Regions from separate parts of the Homo sapiens genome. Here region 2 is linked to region 1. Evidence: fine-mapped expression QTL. Tissue or cell type: monocytes. Region 1 holds a variant in brackets; the other region holds the start of a gene. All regions are shown on one strand. Distances are from middle to middle.

The links. PIP is the estimated chance that this variant, and not a neighbour inherited with it, causes the effect.
Region 2: CYP4F11 starts here. The variant in region 1 is fine-mapped to the expression of CYP4F11 in monocytes (TOPMed, PIP above 0.99).

The regions. Positions count from the first base shown.
Region 1 is chr19:15,905,789-15,908,474 of GRCh38, reverse strand. It overlaps the pseudogene LOC729654. Among named protein-coding and RNA genes, the nearest start is that of CYP4F2, 9.1 kb to the right of the region's middle. The variant C/T (reference allele first, on the strand shown) is at 1,145.
Region 2 is chr19:15,933,083-15,935,768 of GRCh38, reverse strand. It overlaps CYP4F11 (cytochrome P450 family 4 subfamily F member 11), which reads left to right and starts at 1,240. Exons shown (of 12, transcript NM_021187.4): 1 at 1,240-1,558. The coding sequence starts at 1,361.

The DNA.
Region 1 (2,686 bases):
GTAGTTCAATAAATCTTAAGCTCAGATAATTAAACACTATTTTGAATCTTAACAAGATACTGAGCATTTTTTTGTATGGGATGATATCAGCCTATGTACAATGAATTTAATAAACTTAAGTATTATCAGATATTTTGCACATTTTAGATCAATAAAATCTGAATTAACTGTTCAAGATTTTTTTATCTGTATTTGGAAATATAATTTTGTAAAATCAATGTCTTACCTTTTTATTACAATAGATCATGTTTTGTATTCAATAAAGCAAGAAGCCCTTTTATCTGTTGTTTTTCAGGGAAGGGAGTAACATTTAATTCTGTTTGTTTACATTTGTTTTCATTGTTATCCAATGCTCATTTTATGTTGCTTTATAAGTAAGCTTAGGTATAACAGAATAAGTATCTGTTTATCTAATCTACATGTGACTACTTTAGTCTCTCTCAGTCACTTAATATTATGCTGAAATTTACCACTGTGGGGATGAATGATCACTATCCAACAAGCGTATTTGAACATGTAAATGCTTAAGAAATAAGTATAATATGGATATAGTTTGGGTTAATAGTATTCTCATAGTTTTTTCCCTCTATGAAACATAAGTAATGATTTTAGTGTATTTCTTATGGAATACACTCATTTATAAAGGACTTTAAGAAATTGTGGATGTGAATAATATCTTTCTCTAGTAAAAATTTAAATTGTAAAAAAAAAACCCAAAACCTTTCTGATATTTTCATTGTGATTTCACTGAATCTATAGATTTAGTTGGGAAGAACTGACATCCTGACAATATTGAGCTTTTTGTCTTACAAGAAATGTTCAAGGGAGTCCTGCATCTGGAAGTGAAAAGAGGATCATTACCATCATGACAACATGCAAAAGTATAAAATCCACTGGCAAAGCAGATACACATAAGAGAAAAGAATCAAACCTTATTACTACAGAAAACTACCAAAACCACAATCGTAAACAATAAGAGAGGAAGAGAGGAATAAAAGATATACAAAACAACTAGCAAACAATGAATAAAATGACAGAAGAAGGTTCTTACCTATAATAACTTTGAATGTAAACAGATTAAATCCCCCACTTAAAATATATAGACTGGCTGAATGGATTTTTTAAATGACCCAACTATGTGCTT[C/T]CCATAAGAAACTCACTTTACCTATCAAAAAACATATAGACTGAAAGTGAAGGGATGGAAAAAGACATTCTACCCAAGTGGGAACCAAAATCAAATAGGAGTAGCTATGTTTATATCAGATAAAAATAAAACAGACAAGGGATAAATTCAGCAAGAGCATATAACAATAGTAAATATATATGCACCCAAAACTGGAGCACCTAGCTACAGAAAACAATTATTATTAGATCTAAAGGGAGAGATAGACTCCCATACAATAATAGTTGCAGACTTCAATAACCCAATCTCAATACTGGACAGATCATCTAGACAGGAAGTCAACAAAGATACATTGTATTTAAATTTCACTTTAGACCAAATAGACTTAACAGACATTGACAGAATAGTTCATGCAACAGCTGCAGAATACACATTTTTTTTCATTAGCACATGGAAAAATCTCCTGGAGAGACCACACATTGGGCTACAAAGCAAGTCTCAACAAGTTTAAAAGTACTGAAATCACATCAAGTATACTTTCTGACGGCAAGGAAATAAAGCTAGAAATCAATAACAGAAATAACTTTCAAAACTGTACAAATACATCAAAATTAACAACATGCTCTTGAACAACCAATGGATTAATAAAAAATTAGGAAGTACATTTAAAATTTCTTGAATCACATGAAAGTATAAACACAATGTATCAAAAGCTATGGGATACAGCAAAAGCAGTATTAAGAAGGAATTTTATAGCAATAAACACCTACATCGAAAAAAGTAGAAATATTTCAAATAAACAATCTAATGATGCACCTCAAGGAACAAGAAAAACAAAAGCAAACCAAACTCAAAATTAGTAGGAAAAATGAACTAATGAAGATCAGAGCAAAAATAAATGAAATTGAAAGTAAAAATAAAATACAAAAGATCAATAAAACAAAGAGTTTTGTTTGTAAAAAAATAAACAAAATTAACAAATGTTTAGCTAAACAAAGTAAGAAAAAAGAAAGACTCAAATAAATGAAATCAGACATGAAAAAGGAGACATGACAATTGATACCACAGAAATACAAAGAATCATTGGAGTCTATTACAATCAACCATGAGTCAACAAATTGGAAAGCCTAGTAAAAATGTATAATTTCTCAGGCACATACAACCTATCAAGATTGAACCAAAAAGAAATAGAGAGTCTAAACAGACTAATTACAAGTAATGAAATATAACCAGTAATAAAAACTCTCTCATCAAAGAAAAGCCCAGGACCTGATGGCTTCAATGCTGAATTCTACCAAACATTAAAAAAAATACTTAATACCCATTCTTTTCAAACTGTTCCAAAAAATCAAAGAAAAGAGAGTTCTTCTTAATTCATTCTATGAAGGCAGCATTACCCTTATACCAAAACCAGAATGGGACACAAGAAGAAATGAAAACAGCAGACCAATATCGCTGATGAATAGAAGTGCAATAATTCTCAATGACATACTAGGAAATCAAATCCACCAGCACACTACAAAGATAATTTACTATGATCAATTGAGATTTATCCCAGGGATG
Region 2 (2,686 bases), 27 kb before region 1:
TTCCCTTCACTCCCTCCTCAGAATCTTTCATCTGTCCCCATCTAAGGCCCATTTTCCTGTGATCCCTCCTCTGTCCCCCTCTAAGGCCTTATCTGACATCCCATTTCCCAGATGGGAAGCCTGAGTCCAGGAGGGGCTCACTACCCACAGTTAGGGCAAGGGGAGGGCAGAATAAGGACTCCACTCAGGGTCCCCCATCTCTGCCCTCCTGTCCCTGGCCCCATCCACTCATGGCCCCTCTCAGCCTTACCTCCCATCTCCCCTCTCTGTCCTCCTATGCTGAACCTAGCCTCCAGGTATTCTCCTCCAGCGGGGCTCTTTATCTCTAAAATCTGACCGGGTAATCCCCAGCACAGTTAGATAGTTTGTTCCTACTCCTGTCAGTCATGTCTCGACCCAGGCCCTGGGTTGCCTGGAGGCAGGACTTGAACTCCTGCCAGACTGTGAAGCCAGAGGCCAGGAGCTTCTGTCTCTGAATCTCCTAAGTCTGCACTGAGAAATGGTGCATGATGAACTCCTGGACCACATGTGGAGAGGAGCTCAGAACATGATCTGGCACAATGGTTGGCCTGGCCCCACTCTCTTGCCACCTGAACTCTCAAGTTCATGACTTTATCTGCCACACTCTTGCCTTGGAAGGGCAAGGTGGCTGTAAACTTTGGGGCTCAGAGTCACCTTTGACTCTTCCTCAAGATCCCCTCCCACTCAGGTGTGAGATGTTGAGACCTGCGGATCCTGTGCCCATGCTGTGTCACCCTGAGCTGGCTCCTCTGCACCCAGCTGGCCCTACGCCAGGTTTTGGTTGGTTGCCCAGGCTTGGAAGACACACCCAGTCCATGGGGATTGGCTCGACCAGCCCAGCCCAGCCTCGCCTCCCACAGCCTTCCGGAAATCAGGGGCCAGAGGCAAAGACCTCCTAGCAGAGGGGGAGAGGAGGGTATGTGGGACAAGCTGCTTCTGATAGGAGCCAGGCTGGCAGTGGCAGGGCTGGAGGGTCCTGGCCTGGGATGGGGAGGGGACTGCCCAAGGTTGGGGTGGGTCAAGGCTGCTGGCCTGGGAGACTGGTGATTTCCTGGTAACTGGACCCCTGGCAACCTCCCAGTGATTCAGGCTGGGCCTTTTTGGATTCTAATCAGCCTCTCTCTCTCTTTCCCTTTCTGTGTAACTGGAGGCCACTTGGCTGCTGGTTTTCATTGGGCATTTCTGGACTTTAGATCTCAGCTCTTGTTTACCCATCTCAGAGCCTTCCCTGATCTGCCTCCAGCACTGCCCATCCTTGCCCCTTTCCACTGTCCTTGGAGCTTCCTGGGCCCTTCCCTGGGCCTCAGGATCCCACCCTCCATCCCGTCTGCCCTGCAGGATGCCGCAGCTGAGCCTGTCCTGGCTGGGCCTCGGGCCCGTGGCAGCATCCCCGTGGCTGCTTCTGCTGCTGGTTGGAGGCTCCTGGCTCCTGGCCCGCGTCCTGGCCTGGACCTACACCTTCTATGACAACTGCCGCCGCCTCCAGTGTTTTCCTCAACCCCCGAAACAGAACTGGTTTTGGGGACACCAGGGCCTGGTGAGTTTGTCAGCAGGACGGGTCTGGGGTCTCAGGATGCATGGAGTTCCTGAGGGGCAGGAATGGGGCTCAGGGAGCTGGGTTTTGAGGGTGGCTGGGGTGTGGGAACACAGAGAAGAGAGGGAGGCAGCTCACTCATTCCTCTGCCCACTCACTCATTCCTCTCCCCGCTCACTCATTCCTCTGCCCACTCACTCATTCCTCTGCCCACTCACTCATTCCTCTCCCCGCTCACTCATTCCTCTCCCCGCTCACTCATTCCTCTCCCCGCTCACTCATTCCTCTCCCCGCTCACTCATTCCTCTGCCCACTCACTCATTCCTCTTCTCGCTCACTCATTCCTCTGCTCACTCACTCATTCCTCTCCTCACTCACTCATTCTTCTCCTCACTCACTCATTCTTCTCCTCACTCACTCATTCCTCTGCTCACTCACTCATTCCTCTCCTCACTCACTCATTCTTCTCCTCACTCACTCATTCCTCTCCTCACTCACTCATTCTTCTCCTCACTCACTCATTCTTCTCCTCACTCACTCATTCCTCTCCTCACTCACTCATTCTTCTCCTCACTCACTCATTCCTCTCCTCACTCACTCATTCTTCTCCTCACTCACTCATTCTTCTCCTCACTCACTCATTCCTCTCCTCACTCACTCATTCTTCTCCTCACTCACTCATTCCTCTCCTCACTCACTCATTCTTCTCCTCACTCACTCATTCCTCTCCTCACTCACTCATTCTTCTCCTCACTCACTCATTCCTCTCCTCACTCACTCATTCTTCTCCTCACTCACTCATTCCTCTCCTCACTCACTCATTCCTCTCCTCACTCACTCATTCCTCTCCTCACTCACTCATTCTTCTCCTCACTCACTCATTCTTCTCCTCACTCACTCATTCCTCTCCTCACTCACTCATTCCTCTCCTCACTCACTCATTCCTCTCCTCGCTCACTCATTCCTCTCCCCGCTCACTCATTCCTCTCCTCACTCACTCATTCCTCTCCTCACTCACTCATTCCTCTCCTCACTCACTCATTCCTCTCCCCACTCACTCATTCCTCTCCCCGCTCACTCATTCCTCTCCTCGCTCACTCATTCCTCTCCTCACTCACTCATTCTTCTCCT